7 linked regions of the Homo sapiens genome follow. The protein of the gene in region 1 purifies or fractionates together with the protein of each later gene. This does not show direct contact. Each region holds a gene or a part of one and is shown in the gene's direction. Other genes may lie near its edges.

What was found.
Region 2: the proteins of BMP1 (region 1) and CSTF3 purify together in Homo sapiens (affinity purification with mass spectrometry; 2 studies listed by BioGRID and IntAct, with this or other methods). This does not show direct contact.
Region 3: the proteins of BMP1 (region 1) and NCAPG purify together in Homo sapiens (affinity purification with mass spectrometry; 2 studies listed by BioGRID and IntAct, with this or other methods). This does not show direct contact.
Region 4: the proteins of BMP1 (region 1) and POGLUT3 purify together in Homo sapiens (affinity purification with mass spectrometry; 2 studies listed by BioGRID and IntAct, with this or other methods). This does not show direct contact.
Region 5: the proteins of BMP1 (region 1) and KIF5A purify together in Homo sapiens (affinity purification with mass spectrometry; 2 studies listed by BioGRID and IntAct, with this or other methods). This does not show direct contact.
Region 6: the proteins of BMP1 (region 1) and KIF2C purify together in Homo sapiens (affinity purification with mass spectrometry; 2 studies listed by BioGRID and IntAct, with this or other methods). This does not show direct contact.
Region 7: the proteins of BMP1 (region 1) and GID4 purify together in Homo sapiens (affinity purification with mass spectrometry; 2 studies listed by BioGRID and IntAct, with this or other methods). This does not show direct contact.

What each region holds. Positions count from the first base shown.
Region 1 is NC_000008.11:22,203,372-22,206,871, forward strand, and holds part of BMP1 (bone morphogenetic protein 1 isoform 3 precursor), read left to right. Parts: intron 1-3,482; coding exon 3,483-3,500. UniProt on the Homo sapiens protein: Metalloprotease that plays key roles in regulating the formation of the extracellular matrix (ECM) via processing of various precursor proteins into mature functional enzymes or structural proteins.
Region 2 is NC_000011.10:33,084,084-33,086,282, reverse strand, and holds the end of CSTF3 (cleavage stimulation factor subunit 3), read left to right. Parts: intron 1-293; coding exon 294-388; intron 389-509; coding exon 510-570; intron 571-993; coding exon 994-1,196; 3' UTR 1,197-1,699; downstream 1,700-2,199. UniProt on the Homo sapiens protein: One of the multiple factors required for polyadenylation and 3'-end cleavage of mammalian pre-mRNAs.
Region 3 is NC_000004.12:17,834,979-17,838,478, forward strand, and holds part of NCAPG (condensin complex subunit 3), read left to right. Parts: intron 1-2,180; coding exon 2,181-2,362; intron 2,363-2,648; coding exon 2,649-2,823; intron 2,824-3,500. UniProt on the Homo sapiens protein: Regulatory subunit of the condensin complex, a complex required for conversion of interphase chromatin into mitotic-like condense chromosomes.
Region 4 is NC_000011.10:108,484,885-108,488,384, reverse strand, and holds part of POGLUT3 (protein O-glucosyltransferase 3 isoform 1 precursor), read left to right. Parts: intron 1-1,944; coding exon 1,945-2,228; intron 2,229-3,500. UniProt on the Homo sapiens protein: Protein glucosyltransferase that catalyzes the transfer of glucose from UDP-glucose to a serine residue within the consensus sequence peptide C-X-N-T-X-G-S-F-X-C. Can also catalyze the transfer of xylose from UDP-xylose but less efficiently.
Region 5 is NC_000012.12:57,577,544-57,581,043, forward strand, and holds part of KIF5A (kinesin heavy chain isoform 5A), read left to right. Parts: intron 1-169; coding exon 170-230; intron 231-465; coding exon 466-537; intron 538-694; coding exon 695-799; intron 800-3,412; coding exon 3,413-3,500. UniProt on the Homo sapiens protein: Microtubule-dependent motor required for slow axonal transport of neurofilament proteins (NFH, NFM and NFL). Can induce formation of neurite-like membrane protrusions in non-neuronal cells in a ZFYVE27-dependent manner.
Region 6 is NC_000001.11:44,766,052-44,768,267, forward strand, and holds the end of KIF2C (kinesin-like protein KIF2C), read left to right. Parts: intron 1-774; coding exon 775-898; intron 899-1,045; coding exon 1,046-1,128; 3' UTR 1,129-1,716; downstream 1,717-2,216. UniProt on the Homo sapiens protein: In complex with KIF18B, constitutes the major microtubule plus-end depolymerizing activity in mitotic cells. Regulates the turnover of microtubules at the kinetochore and functions in chromosome segregation during mitosis.
Region 7 is NC_000017.11:18,052,908-18,056,407, forward strand, and holds part of GID4 (glucose-induced degradation protein 4 homolog), read left to right. Parts: intron 1-1,219; coding exon 1,220-1,327; intron 1,328-3,500.

The sequences.
Region 1 (3,500 bases):
GTGATGAAAACCCGTCTCTACTAGAAATACAAAAAATTAGCCAGGCGTGGTGGGACGCACCTGTAATCCCAGCTACTCAGGAGGTTGAGGCAGGAGAATTGCTTGAACCTGGAAGGCGGAGGTTGCAGTGAGCCGAGATCATGCCATTGCACTCCAGCCTGGGCAACAGAGCAAGACTCCGTTTCAAAAAATAAAAAATAATAAAAATGATACCTACCTTGCAGGGTACTAAGCTTTATAGACATGGCTCTGAGCCATTAGCACCATGCTTGGCAAGTGACTCTTCCCACCCTGGTTAGGTTGACAACCCAGGTTTAAACAGATGAGCTGCTCACAAGCAGAAACAGAACCGAAGCCCTCAACAGTGAACCAGTGGACAGTCGAGGGCTTCCAACCCTGTGACCTCAGGCTTCCCAAATACACAGTTCCTGAGTCATGGAACTAGCTAGAGGGGACCTTATACTGATATTGTCTAAACTGCATTCTGTCTCTGTACTCCCCTGTGTAAAAAGATGGTTTGATAAAGAACAGAATCCACAAGATAGCCAGGACAGGGGTGAAGCTCCTGGAGAAGATGGCCTGTTTACCTTTCCATCTGCTGATTCACCTTAGAAGCATGTGTGGTTTCTTACTCAGGTGATAGGTTAATTACAGATCTGTAAGCATTTCCTGATTCCTATGGAGGACCCAGCACTATGCAAAGATCTGTAGGGGATTCAAGACAGGAACCCCTCTGTTCCCACGGAGATTGCAGCCTAGCTGGGGAGAGACATGGGCGTGCAAGGAACACAGGGGGCGTGGAAGGCCAGAGCGCAAAGAGGGAGGGCAGGGGGCTGTGTGAACCCACCGATGGGTAATGGTGACAGCTCACGGTTCAAGTGTGGGTAGACGGGAGCTTCACCTGCCTCTACCAGGGACTTGAGAGGGCCCTGTTTTCCGGGCCCTCGTGCTGTATCTTGCCCATCCTTCTCCCCACCAGTCATAGTGCCTGGCCGCCTGTTTCCCCCAGTGAAAGCTGTCCAATAATGTCATCATGAATAATGATCATCAGCTTGTAAATCTGAGTCGGGGCAGGGCGTGGTGGCTCATGCCTGTAATCCCAGCACTTTGGGAAGCTGATGGGGGCAGATTGCCTGAGCTCAGGAGCTCAAGACCAGCCTGGGCAACATGGCAACACCCGTCTCCACTAAAAATACAAAAAATTAGCCAGGCGTGGTGGCGCAAGCCTATAGTCCCAACTGCTTGGGAGGCTGAGGCACAAGAATCGCTTGAACCTGGGAGGCAGAGGTTGCAGTGAGCCAGGATCGCGCCACTTCACTCCAGCCTGGGCAACAGAGCAAGACCCTGTCCCCCCCCACCCCGCCCGCCCCCGCAAAAAGAAATTGAGTTGGGGAAGCCATGCTTTTCAGAGGCAGAAGTCAGATTGCCGTGGATTGAGGAGACCTGCCGTGAGAGTGTGGCCATAGCGAGTGTTCTCGAAGGCTAGCTGGAAACAAAAGGAGAGCGATGGGCTGTAGCTGGAGGGGCCTGGGAGAGCTCTTTCAGGATGTGTGAAGGTTCCGAGGCTGCAGAGCTGAGTGAGAGCGTGAGGCTGGATCATTTGTGGTGTGAGGGTTCCCACGCGTGGGCAGCAATGAGCTGCACCTCCCAGAAGGGCAGTCCATCCTGACGGGGAGGAGGGACACTTGCTCTGAGGCTTCAGGGCAGCAGGGTAGCAGGGTAGGTGGGTTTGCAGGTCGGAGTCCAGAGGTTGAAGCCATTCATGGTGGAAGGCCCTGGCTTTGTCAGGAGGTAGGAGAGAGGTGGTCTGCCACTGGGAGCTGACACAGTGGCTTGAGGAGGGGGCTGGATGTTTGCAGCAGTTACTAAGGAGGTGAGAGATGGAGCTGGTAAAGGCCAATCCAAAGAGTATCAAGTGGTCTGGGGGCCCAGGTGAGGCTGGAGCCACAGGTGGAGTTTTCTAAGATAGTGCTGTGCAGAGCCGGGGATGCAGGGCCACGCAGGGTGCAGAGGAGCAGGCTGGGTGGTCAGCCCTGCAGTCAGTTAAGTCAATCGAGGAGGAAATAGTGGGAGAGAATAGAAAGATCAAGACCCTGGAGGTCTCTCTAAAATTAAGAGGCCAGCCAGGCACAGTGGCTCATGCCTGTGACCCTAGCACTTTGGGAAGCTGAGGCAGGAGGATCGCTTGAATCCAGGAGTTTGACATCAGCCTGGGCAACATAGTGAGACCCCATCTCTACAACAAGCAAAAATGAAAAAAATTACCCAGGTGGCATGCCTGTAGTCCCAGCTACTTGGGAGGCTGAGGCGGGAGGATCAATTGAGCCTAGGAGCTCAAGGCTATGGTGAGCTATGATCGCACTACTGTACTCCAGCCTGGGTAGCAAAGTGAGGACCCATTTTTGTTTTTGTTTTTTAATTTTAATAAAGCCAAATGACCATGATCAGGAAGGTGAGGTCCTGAGCACCCCGAAGGAACAGGAGGTGGCCACAGAGGGGTGATGTGTTTGTGATGTGAAGAAACAGTGGATGATGACAAAGCCCTCAAGGAACCGAGAGGCCGTCTTGGGTGGACCGTTATATGTCTGTTGACTTCACCTGGGAGGGTAGCAGGAGTGGGGGTGGGGAGAACTGAGTCAGGTGTCAAAGTCCCCTGTGACTGTCCAGGCTGCTGGAGATCAGTGGATGACAGCTTCAAGGAGGGGCACAGGTCAGCCGGGTGCAGTGGCTCACGCCTGTAATCCCAGCACTTTGGAAGGCCTAGGCAGGTGGATCACTTGGGGCCAGGAGTTCGAGACCAGCCTGGCCAACATGGTGAAACTCTGTCTCTACTAAAAATACAAAAATTAGCCAGGCATAGTGGCTCACGCCTGTAATCCCAGCACTTTGGGAGGCCAAGGTGGGTAGATCTCCTGAGGTCGGGAGTTTGAGACTAGCCTGGCCAACATGGCGAAACCCCGTCTCTACTAAAAATACAAAAATTAGCCAGAGATGGTGGCGCACGTCTGTAATCCAAGATACTGAGGAGGCTAAGGCAGGAGAATCACTTAAACCTGGGAGGTGGAGGTTGCAGTGAGCCGAGATCACACCACTGCACTCCAGCCTGGGCAACAGAGCGAGACTCCATCTCAAAAAAAAAAAAAAGAAAGAAAGAAAAGAAAAATGGAGAGGCACAGGTGATATGACCCCTGTGGCCCAACACCTACAAAGGTCTGGGGGTTGTCCAGGGAGCCTGCGATGGCTGCTTCATGAGTGCTGCCATGTGAGGCCTCACTCAAGGCTTTTGTAGGAATCGGGCAGCTAGATTTTCCCCAGACGCAGTAACCTCATGAAAAAGAAACGATGCCTGCCTGCCATCCAGTTCATAAGTGGGACAAGAGATGGAAGAAAGGAGGGGGGGCAGGAGGGAAGGGCCTTCCCCACAGGAGGCATCGGAGCTTGGGGTCCCTCTCTATCCCCTTCCGTCACTCGCTTCCCTGCAGCCGGCTGTGACCACAAGG
Region 2 (2,199 bases), on another chromosome or scaffold:
GATTGCTAAACAAATGACTTGTGTAACTCAGAAACACTCTTTGACAAAAACTGACTTTAGTTCAGTCCCTGGTTGTCTTACACAAAGTCACTTGTCTACTTCTCTGCCTCCCAGTGGCCACGGCATTGAGACTGCTGTCTCACCCACTTTGGTTTGGTAAAGCCCTAGAAGTATTTTCAGTGTCCAGAACAAAGCAGCAGACATGGAAGATCTTTATGTGCAAGTCACTTGATTTTAGCTCTGTGTAGAAATTCTTCCATTCCACTTGATTCATACTTTTCTTTTTCTCACAGCTCCAGGTTTACACCCTGTACCTGGTGGAGTGTTCCCAGTCCCTCCTGCAGCTGTTGTTTTAATGAAACTTCTCCCTCCTCCTATCTGTTTCCAGGTTTGTTCACTTATTTTCATGGTAGATACTGGCTCTGTGGGTCATAGTAATTGTGTATAAAGTTACTACTACTTTAACTTGTCAGATTACTGGGATTAAAATTTATTCATGTCAAAAATAGGGTCCTTTTGTACAAGTGGATGAACTGATGGAAATTTTCCGAAGATGCAAGATACCAAATAGTAAGTAACAGAAGCTCCATTTCAGAGTGTCATTCCACGTTGTTGTCTCATAGGCAGTAGAGATTATTATTCTCTGCCACTGAAGTTTTCGAAACCAGCCAGCCAATTTGAAGTGCAGTGAAACCCAGGAGTTACCCAAACCCTCTTTGGCAGAGAAAGGCTTATTCACATTGAATTCCACTAAGTAAAATGTCATAAAACTTTATCTTTTCTATTCATGTGAACATGCACTATCAGGCTTGGCTTATGAAAATTATTAGTTTTAACAGCAGCTTTTGTCTTTTTCTTTAATTATTTAGTATCAGTAGTACTATCCCATGTTTTGCTAAAATAGTAGGCTATGAAATAAAGTATCCACAGTTGAACATACATACCCTTTCATAGTGGAATATGTTTTTACGTTTTGTTGTTTTGTTTTAATAGCTGTTGAGGAAGCTGTGAGGATCATTACTGGTGGGGCCCCAGAGCTAGCTGTAGAAGGCAACGGCCCCGTGGAAAGTAATGCAGTACTCACCAAGGCCGTCAAAAGGCCCAACGAGGATTCAGATGAAGATGAAGAAAAGGGAGCCGTTGTCCCCCCTGTTCATGACATTTACAGAGCACGGCAGCAGAAGCGGATTCGGTAGGGTTTTAAACGCCTCTGCAGAAAACTCCTGTCCAGGATTCCTTTTGCCTCAAGTGGTATGTTTAAAAGAGACAACGCTTTGTTACAAGGTTCTTGGAAACAAAGTTGTATTGTCATTGGTGCCTCTATCACATGGTTCTTGAGAAAAAACAAACCAACCTGTGTGAATTTTAGAATACGGAACAGACCTATGCTCTAAGCAAAATTAGGTTTTCAAAAATGTGAGAACAGTACAAAGTGGCAGAACCACATTTTGTTCCCTCTTCAAGGGTGTCTTGTATGTGCCGCTTGAAGATTTGTGAGTTTTTCAACAGTTTTATTTTAAAAACTGGATGGCTTATGATTGTAAAGCATTTTATCACATTTTCTGAAAACAATTGTTCTTGGTTTGCTTATGTAGAGTCCTGCCTTATTGTTTGTTTTTATTTATGGCAGAATGTATGAAATCCGTTTTGTAGTTTCAAATTTTAAAAGTCCTTTAAAAAATAAAAGGATTCAGAAACATCATGCTTCCTCTGCTTCTTTCAGATTTTATTTACAATAACTACTTATGTTATTTATCCAATACCATTTAAAAATAAATGTCAGGACAAGGAAAAGTCATCTTGTATTTACTGAATGTATTAATCACATACTCTTTCCTGGTCTGTCTTTTTTGGTGCTAACTAAAAACATTTTTAAGAGGCAAATTAAACATTTTAGAAATCCTCAAATATGAATGCATTTGCTCCCCAGTAAATCTGAGGCAGATTAAGATCCTGTTAATACTTTTGTCTCTCTTGAAAGCAACCTAAGTGTGGAAATTCCTTTAACCACCTGCTGTCTTGTTCTCACATAGAGTATCTCTTATCTAAAATACTTGGGACCAGAAGTGTTCAGGATTTTGGATTTGTTCAGATTTCAGAATATTTGCATCATACTTACCAGTTCACCATCCCTAATACAAGAGTACAAATTCCACAAAACTCCACTAAGCATTTTCTTTGTGCATCATGTTGGCACCG
Region 3 (3,500 bases), on another chromosome or scaffold:
TATGTTGTATTTGTGATATAGAGACTCTAAGATTTATCCCCAAGACTTTTAAGAAATAGTTTAGAATAATTTTATATTGGGTGGGTAGAAGATGTAAGATAGGGTATGGGATTGGATCTCTTTTAAGTACTCTTGAACTACTATTTTTGTAGCACACATGTAAACCAACTGATTAAAAATTTTTTATACTGATTGTAGTTTTTCATTGAGTTAGAAGTGATATAACAAAACTTAATTTTATTTTTTTGAGATAGGGTCTTGCTCTGTCATCAGGCTGGAGTGCAGTGGCGTGATCATAGTCCACTGACCCCTCACCTGCTGGGTTCAAGCAATCCTCCTGAATAGCTGGAATGACAGGCATGTGCCACCATGCCCGCTGATTTTTAAATTTTTTGTAGAGACAGGGTCTCGCTCTGTTGCCCAGGCTGGTCTTGAACTCCTGGCCTCAAGTGATCCTCCTGCCTCAGCCTCCCAGAGTGCTGGGATTACAAGTGTGAGCCCTCGTGCCTGGCCCAAACTAATACTGTTAATGTGAACAATTCATTGGCATTTAGTACATTCAAAATGAAAGGCAACTACCACCTTTATCATCTAATTTAAAACATTGTCATCATCCCAAAAGGAAACTACTCATTAAGCAGTTGCTCCTCATTCCCCCTTCTGCCAGCCCTGACAGCAACCAATCCGCAGTCTGTTTCTATGGATTTAACTGTTCTGGATATTTTGTGTAAGTGGAATCATACAGTATGTGACCTCTGTTTAGCTTTTTAAATTTAGCATAACATTTTCGAGATTCATCCACATGGTATCTTGTATCAGTACTCCGTTCCTTTTTGTAGCCGAATACTCCATTTTATGTATATATGGTGATTTGTTTATGCATTCATCCATTGAAGGACAGTTGGGCTGTTTCTACCTTTTGGCTATTGTGAATAGTGCTGCTTACTATGAACATGGCATGTATATGTATTTGTTTGAGTAGCTGTTTCAATTCTTTTGGGTATCTGTATACCTAGGAATTGTGTTGCTCAGTCATTTAACTTTTTGGGAACTTGACAAACTGTTTTCCACAGTGATTGAACCATTTTAAATTTCCATCTTCAGTGTAGAAGGTTTTCCATTTCTCCACATCCTTATTGACACTTAGGTTCCATTTTTTAAAACATTATAGCTATCCTAGTATATATGAAGTGCTACTTCATTGTGGTTTTGATTTGCATTTCCTTAATGACTAGTGATGTTGAGTATCTTTTCATCTGCTTCTTGGCCATTTGTATATTTTGTTTGGATAAATGTCTGTTCAAGTCCTTTGCCCATTTTTAAGTTGGGTTGGTTGTCTTTATAGAGTTCTTTATATAGTTTGGGTAGTAGATCCTTATCAGGTATAATTTGTAACTTTTATTTTACAGGTTGTCTTTTTACTTTCTTGTTAATATACTTAGATGTATTAAACATTTTTAATTTTGGAGATACACTCATTTTTTTCTTTTGTTGCTTCTGCTTTTGGTGTCCTATCTAAGAATCCAGTGCTAAGTCTAAGTCATGAAGATTTATCCCTGTTTTCTTCTGAGAGTTTTCTGGCTTTAGCTTTTATATTTAGGCTGTTGATGCATTTTCAGTTAATATTTGTATATGGTCTAAGGTCCAGCTTCATTGTTTTGCCTGTGTACATCCAGTTGTCTTTTCCTTTGTCTTCTCTAGACTTTTGTTTACTTTTTCTAGGAATGCCTTCTGCTTCAACACCTTCTGTTCACATTCTATCCATTATTCAGACAAATTGCACTCCTACATATGGAGCTTTTGCTTATAGATAGGCACCTTCCTCTAATACCAGGGGCCAGGGTTTTCTATGTCTTAGAAACCCTAAGCATTTAAATATATGTTTTGCTCTTTTTTTCCAACAGTTATAAAAGGCCTTTTGGTTCTTCTAAAAAGTTTTAAGATAATTGAATTTTTCATGGCTAGACTAAGCATTTGTCTAGTCTCCTAGTCTTTTAGATTTGTCTAAAATTGTTATTCTAGCTTTGAAGAAACAGTCTTTTTATTTGCCTTTAAAGAATTTGTAATAACTCGAATGGTTTTTGGATGGTTCGTGTAAAAATACTGTAGGACAGGCTACATTGAGAGGCTTAAAAAGGAGATACAAATAAATTTCTTCTAATGAATGTCATCTTTGTTAGGTATCTGAACTTAGGACTGGAGCTGCAGAAGGACTAGCCAAGCTGATGTTCTCTGGGCTTTTGGTCAGCAGCAGGATTCTTTCTCGTCTTATTTTGTTATGGTACAATCCTGTGACTGAAGAGGATGTTCAACTTCGACATTGCCTAGGCGTGTTCTTCCCCGTGTTTGCTTATGCAAGCAGGTATTGAGTCATACTGATAAATCAAAAATCTGACTTGACATCAAATTCAAGTCCCCCATGAATTATATCTATAATGATATTTTGTTGTTGATACTTTTTCTGTCTTTAGTAGATAAATGATGAAATGACAAGAACGATACAGATTTTATCTATCTGAATTTTTGGCTCTTTCCTAGATGAAAATGCACTTAATGAGTGAATTTCCTACATAGTAGTTTTGAATTTCATACTTTTTCTCTCATCAAATAATGTTCTGCCAACATACTTTGAATTTGTTTCTCAATAGGACTAATCAGGAATGCTTTGAAGAAGCTTTTCTTCCAACCCTGCAAACACTGGCCAATGCCCCTGCATCTTCTCCTTTAGCTGAAATTGATATCACAAATGTTGCTGAGTTACTTGTAGATTTGACAAGACCAAGTGGATTAAATCCTCAGGCCAAGACTTCCCAAGATTATCAGGTGAGTGACTGTGGTAACTGCATGCAGATCACTGTTTTGGTAAAATAATCTCTCTCAAAGATCCCTTGAAATACTGAGGAACTGCATTTTGGTCTTTAGACTTCTGTCTCAAGCATATACCACAAAGCACGAAAGAAACATGACCTTGGGAAATGTGGAGAAATCATATGAAAACAGAAGTAATCAATGCTAACATTTTTGCTACTGAAAAGAAATTACTAAAAATCCACCACCCACACCATGCCCACCTAGTACTGACTGTTAATCTGAAGTAATAACCTATGTTATCTAGGACTCACAGAGTCTTCAAATGTTGGCTTACCTGCTATGCTTCTGGCACAAGAAAGGAGAATTCAAAGACTAGAACTCACCTCAAGCTTTTTTGGCTTTTAATTCAAAGAAGATAAATCAATTGCACACTGACTCACAGACTGAACTTAAGCTGGGTTGTTTTAATCCTTTAATGGCATTTGGTCAAACTTGTTACCATTTTTGAAATTTAATGTATTAGTGATTTCAGATGCTAACAGATTAAGTTGAAAGTATTACTCTATTTTATTTGATATTTAGTGATAAGCTACTCTGTTCAATTCATATGTTGTATATTATTGGAAAGATAAGATTACAAAGGATATTAGGCAAAATTAGGTAAGGGTCAGTAATAGAGCTATTAAGCA
Region 4 (3,500 bases), on another chromosome or scaffold:
TCTCTCAGACTCACTGTCCTTCATTGCCTAATACCTAGTGCCTTAAAAACTATTGTTTAAGGCCAGGTGCGGTGACTCACGCCTGTAATCCCAGCACTTTGGGAGACCGAAGCAGGTGGATCACTTGAGGTCAGGAGTTCGAGACCAACCTGGCCAATATGGCAAAACTCCGTCTCTACTAAAAATACAAAAAATTAGTTGGGCGTGGTGGTGAGTGCCTGTAATCCTAGCTATTCAGGAGGCTGAGGCAGGAGAATCACTTGAACCCAGGAGGCGGAGGTTGCAGTGAGCTGAGATCACACCACTGCACTCCAGCCTAGGCAACACAGTGAGACTCCATCTCAAAAAAACAACAACAAAAACAACAAAAAACTATTGTTTCATATGTTTTGTGGGAGTGTTTTCTGGTTGTTTCAGGTGGGGTGGTACATCAGTCCCTGTTACTTGTTGTCAATGAAAAGAGTCAAACTTATGGCCAGGCATGGTGGCTCACGCCTGTAATCCCAGCACTTTGGGAGGCCGAGGCAGGTGGATCACCTGAGGTCAGAAGTTTGAGACCAGCCTGGCCAACATGGTGAAACCCCGTCTCTACTAAAAATACAAAAATTAGCCAAACATGGTGGTGCACACCTGTAATCCCAGTTACTCGGGAGGCTGAGGCAGGAGAATCACTTGAGCATGGGAGGAGGAGGTTGCAGTGAGCCGAGATCACGCCACTACACTCCAGCCTGGGCGACTCTGCCAGAGTCTCAGCCAGTGTGAGACTCTGTCCCCCTGCCACCAAAAAACAAAAATAAAAGAAAGAAAGAAAAAAGAAGAGAGTCCAACTCTAAAATATTTGAAGAGCTTTATTCTGAGCCAAATATTCAATTCAGTGAGACTACCTGTTTTTGCCTACAGTTTCCCTCCCTGCACTACAGCCTCGAAGCTCCCTTAAGCAGTAAGCTGTAGGAATTGTAGGGCTTACCTTATTGTTCCCCCATCTCTCAGACTCAATGACCAATGGCCCATGACACAACCCTCAGGACATCCTGAGAACCTGTGCTCAAGGTGATCAGGCTACAACTTGGTTTTATACATTTTAGTAAGACATAAGACATTAATCAATACATTTAAGATGTACATTGGTTTGGTTTGGAAAGGAGGGACAACTGGAAGGGGTGGGGGTGGTTGGGAGGGGTTGGGGGTAGCTTCCAGGTCATAGGTAGATTCAGAGGTTTTCTGATTGGCAGTTGGTTGAAAGAATTAAGTTATTGTGTAAAGACTTAGAATCAATAGAAAGGAATGTCTGGGCTTATGATAAGGGTTTGTGGAAACCAAGATTTTATCATGCAGATGAGGCTTCCAGGTAGCAGGCGACAGAGGAGATTGCAAATGTTTCTTATCAGACTTAAAGAGTCAGTTCAACAAAGTTTGTGTTGATGTTAATGCTGGTCAGCTAGGCCTGAATTCCAAAAGGGAGGAGGGTATAATGAGGCATGCCTGGTTCCCCTTTCCCTTCGTGGCCGAACTAGTTTTTCAGATTAACTTTGGAATGCCCTTGGCCAAAAGGAGGGATCCATTTGGACGGTCTAGGAGGCTTAGAATTTTATTTTTGGTTTACATAATGTCTAAAAATTAATACGTTCTTTTTCTCCTTGCTAAAAGGTAAGTTGTTTCATGTTTGCCAGCCATTTATACCTTATTAGAGATGAATTTATGAGCTAAGTGACCGAGAGTAGGTTAGATTGGGAGAGGGCATATACTAAACTGTTTATCCAAGGTGGTGTGAAAAGGAAAGTAAAAGTGTAGGACTCTAACATAATCACTTACACCACTGATTTGTCTAGGGCAGATTATCTCTGGATAATCTTAGAATTCACCAAGAAGCAGAGACAGAAGTGACTCCCTGTGTTGTGGTGCTTGCTAATGGAGTGCGGCCTTTTTCATGTTTTCCTTCCCTAGGACCAGTGTACCATGAGTACTGTGAGTGTCCGGAAGATCCTCAGGCCTGGCAGAAGACTCTTTCTTGTCCAACCAAGGAACCACAGATTGCAAAAGATTTTGCTTCCTTTCCCAGCATCAATCTCCAGCAAATGCTAAAAGAAGTCCCCAAAAGGTTTGGGGATGAGAGAGGTGCCATTGTTCATTACACGATTCTCAATAACCATGTTTACCGGAGATCTTTAGGGAAATACACAGACTTCAAGATGTTCTCTGATGAGATTTTGTTATCATTGACAAGAAAGGTAGGAGAATGAATGAATTGATAATACAGTTTAATTATTTAGGTATAACATTTAAATGTTTAGAATTATAATGACAAAGGATGAAACAGATTTCAGGCTGAGAAATGGGCATCTAAGATATTTGCAACCTGAGTGTTCATCATGTTCTCCATCTTTGTGGATCTTACTTTCCTGTAAGATTTAAAATTAAGTGGCTTGAGGCCAGGCATGGTGGCTCATACCTGCAATCACAGCACTTTGGGAGGCTGAGGCGGGTGGATCATCTGAGGTCAGCAGTTCAAGGCCAGCCTGGCCAACATGGCAAAACCCCATCTCTACTAAAAATACAAAAATTAGCTGGGCGTGGTGGTGGGCGCCTGTAATCACAGCTACTCAGGAGGCTGAGGTAGGAGAATCCCTTGAACCCAGGAGGTGGAGGCTGCAGTGGGCCAAGATTGCGCCACTGCACTCCAACCTGGGTGACAGAGTGAGACTCCATCTCAAATAAATAAATAAATAAATAAATAAATAAATAAATAAAATAGAATAAAGTGGCTGAGCCCCCATCCCAGGTAGGTATGCCATACAGGACACTCCCAAGCTTTCTTTGAGCTTCCAGAGATTTATAACAAGGTTACTTCTTATTCTTTTTTTCAAATAGTCTATATTTACAATATCCAAACAGAACAGTCTCATTTATTTATTTATTTTTAAATAGGGATGGGGTCTTGCTGTGTTGAGCAGGCTGGTCTCAAATTCTTGGGCTCAAGCCATCCTCCTGCCTCAGCCTTGATCCTAGCTGGGACTATAGGCATGCACAACCATGTCAAGAGGCCGCTTTAAGTTCTCTGTTCCGCTGAATACTACTCCTGCTTAGATTTCACCTTCTGCAGCTGTTTTCTTCTCTTCACCTCAAAATGACTTGAACTTAGAACACATTTTCCTTGTTTTACCCTAAGCATACCTAGAAGATAGCGTGCATGGGACATTTTGTCAAAGCTTGGGCTACCAGAAACAGGTTGTTTTTTTTTTCACCAGTGCATACTAAAAAACAAACAAACAAAAACCCTGATATTTAAAAATAGACATCTCTGCACTAATCAGACTCTCAGTCATACTTGCCTCTGGGAATTTCTCAGGGCTGTCCTTGACCTTAAGTTCTTAGCCTCTCACTAATGTGGTTAGGCCCTCTGTTTTTCAGGCTCCCCACATCCCCCAATAGCGCCCCCTTATCTCACTATTCAGCCTCTCTTTCCACATTTGCAGAACTCTAAATTCCTCTTAAGCAGAGCA
Region 5 (3,500 bases), on another chromosome or scaffold:
CCTGATTGTGCCACTGTACTCTATCTAGCCTAGGTAACAGAATGAGACCCTGTTTCACAAAATAACAATAATAGTAATACTTAAATGGAGATAAAAGTAATAGAGGAAGAGGCAGGAGGAAGGAGAGTCCTGAGGGATCTTTCCATTTCCCTTATTTCTCTTGCTACAGATTTCTGTACGAGCGACATGAGCAGTCCAAGCAGGACCTCAAGGGTCTGGAGGAGACAGTTGTGAGTGGTTCCCTTCTGTGCCAAATTCACAGGACTGGGGAGTGGGGAGGCTTCATTTCTTCCTAACCCTATTCCTCCTGCCCTTTTGCAGCCATTCTGTAGCGTAATCAAGACACATTTTTTCCTAAAGGATAAGTGACTCACTTGATTATAGAGACTGGAGGTACCTATAATTCTGGAGGAATAGGACAGACCTGGTATCTGGCTATTCCCAATTTTTCATCATTCTTTCCAGGCCCGGGAACTCCAGACCCTCCACAACCTTCGCAAGCTGTTCGTTCAAGACGTCACGACTCGAGTCAAGAAAGTGAGTGCTGTCCTTGGGGTTTTGTCAGCCCCCACATCCTCCTCCTATCCTTAGGTTTCTCCTGCCCCTGTTGCCCCTATGGGGCTGGCTTGGCCTGGTCTTGGTGGGACCTGTTTGGCCTCAGGACAGCCACGTCTTTCCTTCTATCTGTTCTCAGAGTGCAGAAATGGAGCCCGAAGACAGTGGGGGGATTCACTCCCAAAAGCAGAAGATTTCCTTTCTTGAGAACAACCTGGAACAGCTTACAAAGGTTCACAAACAGGTAAGAGTCTGCTGAAGGAGTGAAGAGAATTTTTGAGGCCGGGTAGCTAGCATACCAAATCCTCAGAGGCCCCTTGGATTCAGGAAAATCTAGTTGCATGTTTTCCTTACTGTTCGCTTTTACTTTCCCTACTAATCCCTTCTTTATACCATATTTGGTCCACTTGTACCTTGTTCTTTGTTTCATGCCTGTATTCCCTTCTCAAAGTTTCTAACCCACCTCTGCTCAAAGTGGAATTCCCCAGGCCTACCTTGGAGGGAGAGGTTGAAACTAACAGAGGCATGGGCTGTAACTATACAGGAGGGAGACTGGTCAGACGTTACCCAGAGATGGAAGGCAGGGAGATGAGAAGAAGCAAGGGAGTTGGGCTTCTTTCGTGGAGAGAACTCCATCTGTCTAGGTCTGTGGCAGGCATGCAGGGACATTAAATGATGTCCCTGGCTAGGCACAGTGGTGCATGCCTGTAGTCCCAGCGCTTCAGGAAGCCGAGGCGGGCGGATCACTTGAGCACAGGAGTTCAAGACCAGCCTAAGCAACATGGCGAAACCCCATCTCTACAAAAAATACAAAAATTAGCCGGATGTGGTGGCACACACCCATAGTCCCAGCTACTTGGGAGGCTGAGGTAGGGCAATTGCTTGAGCGCAGGAAGTAGAGGCTGCAGTGAGCTGTGATCATGCCACTGCACTCCAGCCTAGGTGACAGAGTGAGACCCTGTTTCAATTAAAAAAAAATGATGTCCCTAAGATGGCCCAACCAGCCCCTGGTTGGGGCCCCAGTCAAAACTCCTGTGTATTAAGTTGCTGCCTCTCTGTCCCCCTCCTTGCTGTTGCGGTTCTTTAGGTGGATGACTGGGTTTCAAAGGTATGGGCTGGGGATGCAGAAGGGCAGTCCAAAGGAGTCAGGACAGGAAATGTTTGGTGCATGCTGGGTAGGGGCACTCTCACTAGCACTAAATATCTGAGCCTTGAAGACAGGCTCGGCAGGCTGTCAACTGGTCCTTTTAACTAATTCATAAAATAAACCCTAACCTATACTTCATTCCTTTCCTTTCAAATCTACCTTAAGATTCCATTTAAACTTACATTCTCACTAGCCTAGCACTTAAACTTCTTTTCCTCCCAGTATAATGCCCAGCTTATATAGTAAATATTCAGTACTTTTTTTTTTCTTAATGAATCCTAAACCTGTGCCCAGTGATAATGTACAGAGTTTATTTATCTTATTTAGGCCTGCAGAGGGCTTTGCTACGATTTTATTTCCTTTATTATGAAACTGAGTAACAAAATTATAGAAAAGTTGAAAGGCAGATAGGAAACATTTGAAATCAATTCTGCCATTCGATTTTCATTCCCGCATTCACTTTCCCTCTCTGTCCAAATCCATATTATGTTGCTTAGAACACACACACACATGTGTGTGCTACTCTGGGCCTCTCTGCCTATGGGAAAGCCCTGCTCTATGGAGCAAGCCCCAGAAAAATTTCCATGAAAAAACACAACCACACACTGTTTCCTTTATCGTCACTGAAGCCTCTGCCTCTGTTCAAAGTCCCAAAAAAACAAAAATGACTCACCTATAGGATAAATAGAGGACTCACTACAATTTCCTACCTCAGCAGACACAAGAGTAAAAAGGAAAAGGAGATAAAAACTTCTCAGTTAAGAGAATCTTAACAGCCAGGACTATAGCCCTATATCAATTAAGCTAAAGTATTGTCACAGCAAAACATTGCTTATACTCCATAAATTGTCCAAATGGAAACTGCATGGAAGGGTTTCTAGCTTGTCCCCTTGAGCCCCCAGTGTTCCCCGCTATGCTGATTTACCCGCTGTCTTCCAAGGCCCTGCTCCTTTTGCAACCTATAGTGCCCCCAGTCATTGTGTGGAACCTGTAAAAAGATCAGGAAGTCTTTTCGGGCTGCAGGGTGGTTGCTCCCATGCTCTAGCTTAATTTCACTGGGGGAGGGATAACCCAGGAAGTCCTTGAATGTGAAGGTAATGAGTGCAAATGTTTGTGAGACCTCAAACATTTTCTTTCCTTCCTACGGGGCGGGCTCTGCCTGTCTATATGTGTATGTCAGGGGCTCCTGAATTCCAGCTTCTGCTCCTGCTCTGCACTGCACCTGCCATGCACAGATTCTCCTCAATGCCACAGCCACCAAACTGCTACTGTGCCCTTGCTGCCCCACCCTTTGCATGCCCACAAAGCCCTCTCTGGGGAAGCGGGTCCCTCATCCCCATGGCCGCCCTGGGGCTATTGATCTGGCACATGCTGGGAGATGTGGGGGAAACCAGATGGAGACAGGACAAGGCGCTCTCACAAGAGTTCTGGGCTGCAGTGGAGATGGCAGGTTTTACTGCCTAGAAAATTATATAACTTTTAAATGCCTGACCACCCACCCTTCGCTCTGGGAGAAGGAATGAGCTGGACAGAACAGTCCATTACATAAAGGCAATGAGGCCTTTTGAGGAAATGACATGGTCTCCATCTTCTCTGACTCCTGATTTTTCTTTATTCTCTCTCCTCACCCCTGTCCCCTACGCTCCTCTGGGTGACCGTCTTGGGTCACTTGCCTTCCTTTCCACTTCTTCCCTTTGGCTTGCCCCATAGCTGGTACGTGACAATGCAGATCTGCGTTGTGAGCTTCCTAAATTGGAAAAACGACTTAGGGCTACGGCTGAGAGAGTTAAGGCCCTGG
Region 6 (2,216 bases), on another chromosome or scaffold:
AAGAAAAAATAAATAAATAAATAAATTAGCTGGCTATGGTGGTGTGTGCCTGTAGTCCCAGCTACTCGGGAGGCTGAGACAGGAGAATCACTTAAACCTGGGAGGCGGAGGTTGCAGTGAGCCAGGATCGCACACCACTTCACTCCAGCCTGGGTGACAGAGTGAGACTCCATCTCAAAAAACAATAAAAATAAAATCACTCAAATTTCTAGCTTGGGCATCAGGACCAATGATGTTATTCATTTGACATAAGAGATGGGGATAAGCTTGGGATAGGAGGCCGGAAGTGGTGGCTCAAGCCTGTAATCCCAGCACTTTGAGAGGCCGAGGCCTGCGGATCACCTGAGGTCGAGAGTTCGAGATCAGCCTGGCCAACATGGAGAAACCCCGTCTCTACTAAAAATACAAAATTAGCTGGGCGTGGTAGCACTTGCCTGTAATCCCAGCTACTTGGGAGGCTGAAGCAGGAGAATCCCTTAAACTCGGGGGGTGGAGGCTATGGTGAGCCGAGATCACGCCATTGCACTCCAGCCTGGGCAACAAGAGTGAAACTGTCTCAAAAAAGAAACAAAGAAAACGAAAAAAACAAGCTTGGGGTAGGAAGAGGGTGAATTCAAGCTAAGGATTTCCTTGGGGAGAGGGTGAACAGCCAGGGTATGGGTCAGGGACCAGAGGTAAAGCATCTTACTCAGGTGTCTGCATTGCAGTTGGTAGGACCCCAGGAATGATTTGCTAAATGGTTATTGAACTGACAAGGTCCTCCCTGTGTTGTAGCAAGGACCAGACTGGCTTGAGCTCTCTGAGATGACCGAGCAGCCAGACTATGACCTGGAGACCTTTGTGAACAAAGCGGAATCTGCTCTGGCCCAGCAAGCCAAGCATTTCTCAGCCCTGCGAGGTGGGTGTGGCTGGATGGGGTGCAGGTGGACGATGGTGGCCTCTGCTGGCTCTTGGGCAGCTGCAGGTGATGGCAGCTCTGCCCTGAGTGAATGGGGGCTCCTCAGACTCTCACTAACCCCATATGTACCGCTACCCTTTCTTCCAGATGTCATCAAGGCCTTGCGCCTGGCCATGCAGCTGGAAGAGCAGGCTAGCAGACAAATAAGCAGCAAGAAACGGCCCCAGTGACGACTGCAAATAAAAATCTGTTTGGTTTGACACCCAGCCTCTTCCCTGGCCCTCCCCAGAGAACTTTGGGTACCTGGTGGGTCTAGGCAGGGTCTGAGCTGGGACAGGTTCTGGTAAATGCCAAGTATGGGGGCATCTGGGCCCAGGGCAGCTGGGGAGGGGGTCAGAGTGACATGGGACACTCCTTTTCTGTTCCTCAGTTGTCGCCCTCACGAGAGGAAGGAGCTCTTAGTTACCCTTTTGTGTTGCCCTTCTTTCCATCAAGGGGAATGTTCTCAGCATAGAGCTTTCTCCGCAGCATCCTGCCTGCGTGGACTGGCTGCTAATGGAGAGCTCCCTGGGGTTGTCCTGGCTCTGGGGAGAGAGACGGAGCCTTTAGTACAGCTATCTGCTGGCTCTAAACCTTCTACGCCTTTGGGCCGAGCACTGAATGTCTTGTACTTTAAAAAAATGTTTCTGAGACCTCTTTCTACTTTACTGTCTCCCTAGAGATCCTAGAGGATCCCTACTGTTTTCTGTTTTATGTGTTTATACATTGTATGTAACAATAAAGAGAAAAAATAAATCAGCTGTTTAAGTGTGTGGAAAGGGCCTGGGATGTGTCTGAGCCTTTTGGGACTAAGGACATGACTGTACCTTTGGCCTCTGGGTAGTACTGATTCTGTACTCCTTCCAGGAGGCCATATCCACACCTACAATTCCAATGACAAGCTGAAGACTCCTGTGACTTGTTTGATGTCTATGAGATGCTTACTAGGCCTGGGAACAGAAACTCTTAAGTAGAAGGAAGATGGCCGCCGGGCACGGTGGCCCACGCCTATAATCCCAGCACTTTGGAAGGCCAAGGCGGGCAGATCGCAAGGTCAGGAATTCAAGACCAGCCTGGCCAACATGGTGAAACCCCATCTCTACTAAAAATACAAAAATTAGCTGGGCATGGTACATGGTGGCACGCACCTATAGTTCTAGCTACTCAGGAGGCTGAGGCAGGAGAATTGCTTGAACCCGGGAGGCGGAGGCGGCAGTGAGCCGAGACTGTGCCACAGCACTCCAGCCTGGGAGACAGAGTAAGGCTGTCTCAAAAAAAA
Region 7 (3,500 bases), on another chromosome or scaffold:
CCCTATGTATCAAGGTATTCTAAGACTACCTTCAGGGACCATTTGTATAGTTCATTACTAGAAGTTTCTCTGAACATGTAGAACACTGAAAAAAGTATTTACTTTTTTTTTTTTTTTTTTTTTTTGAGACAGAGTTTCACTCTTATTGCCCAGGCTGGAGTGCAATGGCGTGATCTCGGCTTACTGCAAACTCCGCCTCCAGGTTCAAGCAATCTCCTGCCTCAGCCTCCCGAGTAGGTGGGATTACAGGCATGCGCCACCACGCCCGGCTAATTTTGTATTTTTAGTAGAGATGAGGTTTCTCCATGTTGGTCAGGTTGGTCTTGAACTCCTGACCTCAGGTGATCCTCCCACCTCGGCCTCCCAAAGTGCTGGGATTACAGGCGTGAGCCACCATGCCTGGCCAAAATAAAAGGTATTTTAGGCTGGGTGCGGTGGCTCACACCTGTAATCCTCGCACTTTGGGAGGCCAAGGCGGGTGGATCACCTGAGGTCAGGAGTTCGAGACCAGCCTGGCCAACATGGCGAAACCCCGTCTCTACTAAAAATACAAACATTAGGTGGGCGTGGTGGCAGCCAACTGTAATCCCAACTACTCGGGAGGCTGAGGTAGGAGAATCACATAAACCCAGGGTGTGGGAGGAGGTTGCAGTGAACCGAAATTGTGCCATTGCACTCCAGCCTGGGCGACAGAGCAAGACTCTGTCTCAGGAAAAATAAAAAAGTATTCTACCCCAGAATCCACCCTGGAACCTTGGAGAATTGGTGTAAAAGGGACAAATGACTGAGCCAGTTGGAGAACCAGTGGCTTGAGGGAGCCTTAGTGGTAGACACAGTGATTTTGGAGCCTCTTTGGGTCTAACCTTGGAAAGTAAAATCTACCAAGTTATGATCTGCTTTGTATGCTAGAATATTAAAAATTTATTTGTGGAAACATCCAAATTATTTTCTAAGAGACTAGCATGTAACAATTGAAGTCAAAGAAGGGCTGTCTGCTGCTGGCAAAATCCAGGAAACCCTTCATTCTCTGGGTGATTTAGATTCAGGTCCATTGCCACAGCCTGTTGGCAAACTGGCTGCGATCTAACTCTGGTTTGGATTGTCAGGTAGCAGTGTCTAGGTACTGGAAAGAAGTTAAAGCAAAGTTTATTTTTCCTTTGTACAAAGGTTAAAAACTCTCACTCAACATCTTATTTTGATATTTGGGTTTTTACCATAGGAGTATCCAACCCTTACAACCTTCTTCGAAGGAGAAATAATCAGCAAAAAACACCCTTTCTTAACTCGCAAGTGGGATGCAGATGAAGATGTTGATCGGAAACACTGGGTGAGTAAATCTGATCTGTGCTGGGTCATCTAGGGGCTGCTAGAGAATTGAAGAAATGCTGGGAGCCAGAGACCTTGTCCCTTATTGAGGATTACTGGGGCTTTGCAACCAAGTAAAAGGTTGCACTGCACACAGACCTCAGTTGTTCCATCTTCCTTATGAGGACAGTTTAAATACGATCTGACCTGCTGCTTAAATAGCAAATGGTTGTCTGATGATAGCAACCCCAGAGTTCCAGCCAGAACTCTGCTCAGCTATCAGAATCTTAACAGTGTCCCCCCATCCTTCCCACCTGTTTGTCCATCTTCTGTCCACTGTTCCTTTCAAATCACCTCTGCTTGGGGAAAACCCTGTGAAACATGCAATGATGACCTCCGGCTTCGGGGCTGGCATGAGATGGAGATGATGTTGTGGGAATCTGCCTGCCCACTGGCTTATCAGGGCAGAGCCACATCATTTCTTTTTATCCTGGCTGCTGACAGACAAGTATAGTCTTGTCTTAAGTACACCACTATAAATCCTGCTGCCCCCCTTTTTAACTGTCAAGTGTAGAGCATTCTCACTCAGCAGTAGTGAATGCTTCAAGACAGTTAGTGTCCTGGGATCTTTTCATTTGTTGTCATATAAGTACCATGTCTTCAAAAATCAGTGTCTCGGCTGGGCGCGTTGGCTTGCGCCTGTAATCCCAGCACTTTGGGAGGCCGAGGCGGGCGGATCACCAGGTCAGGAGATTGAGACCATCCTGGCTAACACGGTGAAACCTCGTCTCTACCAAAAATACAAAAAATTAGCTGGGCGTGGTGGTGGGCACCCGTAGTCCCAGCTACTCTGGAGGCTGAGGCAGGAGAATGGCGTGAACCCAGGAGGCGGAGCTTGCAGTGAGCCGAGATTGTGCCACTGCGCTCCAGCCTGAGCAACAGAGTGAGACTCCGTCTCAAAAAAAAAAAAAAAAAAATCATTTTCTCAACCTAATAGCCTTTTGCTTTAGTTGACCATGGTGATGGTGAATTTTTGTTTAACATTGAAGAAGTTCAATGGGTTTACCCTCCATAAACCAACCAGAAATGGCTGTGTCAGTAGCAAAGATTCTAGAACTCGTTCTTCCCATTGCCTCTCACACCTGGCTATCTAAACTCTCCCCTGGTTCTGGCACAGCAGTCTGTGGAGAGAACTCCCGCAGACCCTTGTCTTGAGTTCACCTCACTAGAGATCAGTTGCTTTGCTTACTAATGTTTTTTATTTGTTTATTTTATTTAAAAAAAATTTTTTTTAGAGTTGGGGTCTTGCTCTGTCGTCTATGCTGGAGTGCAGTGGCATGATTATAGCTCACTATAGCCTCAACCTCCTGGGCTCAAGTAATCCTCCCACCTCCGCGCCCCAAGTAGCTAGAACTACAGGCACGTGCCACCACACTGAGCTCATTTTCTTTTATTTTTGTAGAGACAGAGTCTCCCTATGTTACCCAGGCTGGTCTTGAACTCATGATCTTAAGTGATCCTCTTGCCTTGTCCTCCCAAAGTGCTGGGATTATAGGTGTGAGCCACTGACCCAACCTGTTTTTTTGGTTTTTCTTTTATGGGGGTTTTTGTTTTGTTTTGTTCTGTTTTGTTTGGTTTGGTTTTGAGACAGAGTCTCAGTCTGTCACCCAGGCTGGAGTGCAGTGGCGTAATCTCGGCTCACTGCAACCTCTGCTCACTGCAACCTCCGCCTCCCAGATTCAAGTGATTCTCATCTCTCAGCCTCTCAAGTAGCTGGGATTACAGACGTGCACCACCGTGCCTGGCTAATTTTTGTATTTTTAGTAGAGACAAGGTTTCGCCATGTTGGCCAGGCTGGTCTTGAACTCCAGGCCTCAAGTAATCCTCCTGCCTTGGCCTCCCAAAGTGCTGGGATTACAGGCGTGAGCCACCATGCCCAGCCCCAAGCTGTTTTTTACTTGAGTAAAAAAAGGAGATCTATCAAATACTGAGGTTCAGTTAAATTTAAATTTAAACTTGAGCTTTTTAAAGCGTTTTTTGAATTCTATACATTTTGATTGTTGTAGCAAATGGACACTAAAAACTAGACAGTCATTTGTGTCTCTCTGTGATACAAGAGAATGCACAAGACCTGAGTATCCAGAAGGTTGGGGGAGCCCAAGTGGTGTATGAAGGTGCTGGCCACCAGCAGGTGG